Linked DNA regions of Homo sapiens: region 2 is linked to region 1. Evidence: fine-mapped expression QTL. A gene starts in region 1. The other region holds a variant in brackets. All regions are shown on one strand. Distances are between the middles of the regions.

Region 1 (2,746 bases):
GTGCCTCACCTGACGCCGTGAGGGCTCTGCATAGATGTGTTTGGAATGAATGTGAGCAGGATGGCAGGTACATACCAGTGGTATCACAGGATTGGCCTTCCTGTGTTGCTCTCTAACTCCCAACAACCTTTAGGAACCCAAACCACCTAGAAAAAACTGAAAACCACCAGGATGGCCCTCCAGGTGCGAGCTCTCAGCCTCTAAAGCAAGGAGCTGCCGTAACCTGGGCAGCTGCTTCAGCCCATTCCTCAGGCACCTGAGAAGCATGGGAGGGAGGCTTGGGATGCCAGCTTGGCAAGCTCAGCTGGTTGGTTCAGCAGTTGATCACTTCCCATTCCCAGGCTCCCTCCAGGCCTGTAATTAACTGAGTGGATGCAGCTCTCATGGGAGGGGAGGGCCAAGTAAGGGAAAGTGATAATTAATGCTCATTAGTAGGGGGTGTCTGCTGGGAATTCAGCCTTCTGTAAATCATTGCCTGGCTTCAGAAAACCTCTTGGGCACTGACTGAGCTGGAGGAGAAAGAGAGAAACACCCCCAACCCCTATCCCTGAGTGGAAATTCCCACCTGACCCTTCCTTCCAGGCTGGGGATGAGACTGTCCTTACTAAGTAATCAGCATTCCCCCAACAATCCTACCCCCACACCCTCATCCTCCTAGCATCCATTACAGTAGGGGCAGAGCACTGTGGCTCCAGGCTTCGCCACTTTCAAAATGCAGTGACCCTGGAAGCCTAGCAGTCATTTACACCCAAGTGGGAATTAGCAGTCAGCCACTTTACTAAGCTCAGGAGGGCCTTCCAGAACCCAGGGCAGGTGCTGGGAGAAGCAGAAAGACTGAGGTCCTTTCCACCCCACCACCCAGGAGTGTGGGCCCAGTTGGAAGGGAAGAGCCCAGAGACCGAGGAGGTTCCACATTAGAGTGACAACTCACCGGGTGGAAGACTGGTGGTTGCAGAATGAAGCTGTCAGGAATTGGGTCCAGTTTTTCTCCAGGTGACATGACAGTGGGGCAACTCCAACTGTAGATCCTCGTTCCAGGAGCCCTGCCCCCACTGGGCTGACTCATCTGCCCCAGTCAGGGTCCTAAATGCCTGGAGCAGCTCTCCCAGCTGTTAGTCTCACCTGCGACCTGCAGCGTTTTAATGCTGTCTGGAGCAGCCCTAGGAGGGCAGCGGGCGACCTCCAGGCTCCACACCAGCCCCACTCCCGGTGGTATACAGCAGAGCTCTGGCTGGGCGGGGGCTGTCAGCAGAACTCAGTGTCCAGGGGAGGAAGACTGGCATTAACCAACTAACTACCCACTCCGGGTCTGCAGCACATGGCCATTGCAGAGAGAAGCCAGAGGCTGGCTCCTGTGGGGCCAACGAGGGTTTGTGGTTTCCAACTCGAGCCCTCATTAGGTCAGAGGAAGGGGAGGTGGTACGTGTGCTTAGGTTCCAGAAACAGCCCCACCCCCAGCTCCCTGGACAGCCTTGGGTGACTTCCCATTCCTTCCTCCCTTCACCACAAAGGGTTTTATCTCTTCCCCTCATTTTCTTTTTTTTTTTTTTTTTTTGAGATGGAGTCTTGCTCTCTTGCCAGGCTGCAGCGCAGTGGCGCGATCTCAGCTCACTGCAGCCTCCGCCTCCTGGGTTCAAGCAATTCTCCTGCCTCATCCTCTCTGGGACTACAGGCATGTGCCACCACGCCCGGCTAATTTTTGTATTGTTAGTAAAGACTGAGTTTCACCATGTTGGCCAGGATGGTCTCGATATCCTGACCTCGTGATCCGCCCGCCTTGGCCTCCCAAAGTGCTGGGATTACAGGCATGAGCCACCACGCCTGGCTCTCTTCCTCTCATTTTCTTGCCCCTTCCTCTACTCTTCTTCCTTTTCCAAGTTTTACAGCCCCCTGAGGCTCCATTTCAGCATCAGCTGGAAATGCTGGGGCCCAGCTGGGGTCACAAGAAAGTAGAATGAGGGAAGGGGAAAAAGCAGAGCCCCTTAAGCTTGGAAAAGGCAGCACAAGAAGCACAGAACTGCGCAGGAGGGAGACTTGAAACTTGACTTCCTCTTCAGCCTCTCGTCTAATGTGCTGTGTGCCCTTGGGAAAGTCACTTCCTATCTCTGGGCCACCCTTTGTTCATCTGTACATGGAGAAAGTGACCATAGCAGCATGTCCCACAGCGAGGCCTGTATCTGGGGGTGGGCCCAAATATCTGCATTTTACTACAGTCCTTCCAGTTCTGGTTCAAATCCCAATAAGGCTTTCCCTTTAAAAAGCAGCACAACCTCTCAACTTTATCCTGAGTTAGGAGGTTCCAGGATCTGACCCATTGCATCAGACTTGGCAGCAGGGAATTCCTGGACCAGGACCAGGCTGGGCAAAGGCTCAAGCGCATGGGGTGCTGAGGGCAGAGTAAGCAGCTCCCTGGATGGAGGGAGAGTGCATGAAGGGTCCTGGGATAAGGTATCTTAGCCAGTGCTACCTAAGCTGTGGTCCACAAGCCACCAGCATCAGCCTCACCTGGAAACTTGTTAAAAATGCAAGTTTGGGGTCCCCACCCCAGACCAACTGAGGAGCACTCTCTGGAAGCTGGGGCCAGGAATCTGCATTTTAACAGCCCCTCCAGGTGATTCTGATGCACTTTAAAGTTTGAGAAGCATTGACTTAGGATGGAACTAGAAGGGCTTTGGGTGCGGAGCTGAGTTTGTTCAGATGTTGCCGAGTAGGTGGAGCTGGGTTACTGAAGGTGCTTATTTGGAGA
Region 2 (3,016 bases), 930 kb before region 1:
CATGAGGCTGACAGCCAAGGAGACCTCAGGGATAACCGGAATAGCAAAAGCCAGCATCCCATAGAAGGCCCCAGGAACCCCCTCCAGGGCCTTTTTCATGCCTGTGTGGTGGGCAGCCTGCCTGCCTGACAATAGCCACAGCCATTGCCTGATGCAGTCCCAGCCTGGCCACCCCCAGGCAAACAGGGGAGAGCCGGGGACACTCACTCTGCACCAGCTTGGGGTCTCTTGGTCCACTTCTAGAACCCACTGAGGGGGGAAGATGGTGCAAGTCTGGAGAGAACAGCCCTGCATCCCTGAGTACCTCTGTCCTAGTTCACAACCATGTTGTCAGATGACTCATTTTTCTTATAAGCTAAGTCCAGAGCTTTTGGAAGCCAGACAGAGAGCTTTGTAAGAGGTGGACACACCTGCCCGAAGTTGGAGTTTCCTGCACCTGCACCGAGGAGAGGATGGTGGATCTGAAAGGTGCCCCCTCCGCTGCCCGCTTCCTGGCCCAGAGCCATGTGGTAGGCTCTCAGTGATGCTTCCCACATCATCTGTGCAGAAAACCTGTTTCTCTTTGCTGCCAGCAAAGCTAATTGCTGAGTTAATTGGCAATGTGTTGTTAGGTGAAAAAGAGCAAGTTATAAAACTGTATTTATAGTTTGACATTATTCTCAAAGAAAAATATGTATGTATGTTCATGTGTGTTCTGCATGTGTGTGCATGCATGTGTTCATGTGTATATGTGCATGTGTGTGACGGAGGAGTGTCTCTCTGTGCGAATATAAATGGACATGGAAAACAAGAATAGAGGCCAGGCGCGGTGGCTCACACCTGTAATCCCAGCACTTTGGGAGGCCGAGGTGGGTGGATCACCTGAGGTCAGGAGTTCGAGATCAGCCTGGCCAACATGGTGAAACCCTGTCTCTACTAAAAATACAAAAATTAGCCGGATGTGGTGGCGGGTGCCTGTAATCCCAGCTACTCAGGAGGCTGAGCCAAGAGAAGCGCTTGAACTCAGGAGGAAGAGGTTGCAGTGAGTCAAGATCACACCACTGCACTCCAGCCTGGGTGACAGAGCGAGACTCCATCTCAAAAAGAAACAACAAAAAAAGAAAACAAGAATAGAACAGGACTGCTCACTGGGAACAGTTTTGCTCCCCACCCCAGGGGACATTTGGTAATGTCTGGAGACATTTCTGGCTGTCACAGCTCAGGGGGAATGTGCTTCTGGCATCTAGAGGGTAGAGGCTATGGACGTTGCTAACCACCCAGCAGTGTACAAGACAGCCCTGCAGCAGAGAACCCGCAGGCCCCAAGTGCCAATGGTGCTGAGGTTGACAGACCCTAATCTAAGCAGTTGTCCCAAAGAAAGGAATCACCCAGGAATCATTAAAAACATAAATCCTTAGCCCTTACCCAGGTCTACCGACTCAGACACTCAGGATGGGGCCAGGGAATCTGTGTCTTTAACAAGCCCTCCAGGTGAGTCTCACACGTGCTCCCGTCGGAGAGTCACTAGTCTAAGAATAGGCATCTTTTATCTCTGAATAGGGGCACAGTGACTTTTATGTTTTTCTTTTTCTCTATATTTTCTAACGTCTCTATTTTAGAAATCACGACATATTACCCTTGTGATCAGAGAAAATA[T/C]AATCTAAGGTCTTAATGAATCCGTGATAGTGAAGTTTCCTTGTCAGTTGGGAAGAGAACAGAAGGTTCCCAGACCAGCATGTTAATCCTGGCTCCATTTAGGAAAACACCTACGTGACCTTGAATGGGCAAGGTGAGCGGAGCCTCAACTGCCTCACCTGTGAAATGGGGATTACAATGCTCCCTGCCTCGCAAGGTTCTTGGAGGGATGTGTTGAAATCCCAGACAAAAGCACCCAGTGCTGTTCTGAGTTCCTGAGAGGTGGCCAGTAGGTCCACCCAAGCCCACCTTGGGTGGAGGTGATCTTGCCCTGATGTGAGCCAGGCTCGGCATGGACAGGAACCTCCCGGGCCCACCCTGGACCCCTTTCCTTGTAACCAGAGCTCACACGGCACAATCATTGTAGGGAATGGTGTTCCCTCCCCACATTCGTAAGAGCTTGGTTTGCTTAAGCAACACCTCCTAAATGTTCACACGTGTCCAGCCATTGTTTCTGATGAGGGGGACACTATGTTTAGGGGTATTTCCTCCATGCATGCATTAAACCGGATGCTGTCAGATACTATTGCAGAACAAATAAAGTCTGTTCCACACTGGGGAGAATGCCAAAGACAGCACCAGCTCCACTGCCCAGGCAGTGACTGCACTGAGCACTTCTGTGAATGTGCAAGACTGACCACGTCTAGACCAGCCCCACCCAAAGCCAGTCCAGCCAATCAGAACTCAGATCTGCCTTGAGTGCCCCAGGGTGGGGTGGGGGGCAGGGGGCCCCACACACAATCAGGACTCAGGCACCAGCCTGGAGTAGGACTCCTCCATCCTTTATGTCTTATGGGTCACCCAACAAATCCAGGTGCACAGCTGGAGGTAAATAATAAAACAACAAGGAGTACTCATTGCCAGAGCAACTCCCAGCAAGACGGGGCTTGGCAAGGGCGAATGTCTGAATTGGTTCTGCAGTTAGATGGCAGGCGGCACTTTGCATGACCTTGGACAAGTGGCTCGACCTTGCTGGGCCTCCATCCCTACATCTGTGAAGCAGGTTGAAGGGCACGCCCATTCAGGGAGCTCTTACAAGGATCTGTGAGGTCACTGGCCTGCAGCGCTGAGTGGCCCTCGGTCTGTCCCACACATAGTAAGTGCTCATTAAATGGTGGCTCTCGGACGGGCGCAGTGGCTCATGCCTGTAATCCCAGCACTTTGGGAGGCTGAGGTGGGTGGATCACCTGAGGTCAGGAGTTCAAGACCAGCCTGGCCAACATGGTGAAACCCCATCTCTAGTAAAAATACAAAAATTAGCTGGGTGTGGTGGTGCATGCCTGTGGTCCCAGCTACTCAGGAGGCTGAGGTGGGAGAATCGCTTGAACTCAGGAGGCGGAGG

Alleles and levels. Alleles are on the strand shown, and positions count from the first base shown. SD is a standard deviation of normalised expression in the study named.
With allele T in place of C in region 2, the expression in breast of the gene that starts at base 1,375 in region 1 is higher (moderate effect, 0.47 SD a copy in GTEx).

The links. PIP is the estimated chance that this variant, and not a neighbour inherited with it, causes the effect.
Region 2: its variant is fine-mapped to the expression of LGALS12 in breast (GTEx, PIP 0.98).

Annotation. Positions count from the first base shown.
Region 1 is chr11:63,504,713-63,507,458 of GRCh38, reverse strand. It overlaps LGALS12 (galectin 12), which reads right to left and starts at 1,375. Exons shown (of 9, transcript NM_033101.4): 1 at 932-1,375. The coding sequence starts at 1,000.
Region 2 is chr11:64,433,622-64,436,637 of GRCh38, reverse strand. No RefSeq gene overlaps it. Among named protein-coding and RNA genes, the nearest start is that of LINC02724, 14 kb to the left of the region's middle. The variant T/C (reference allele first, on the strand shown) is at 1,636.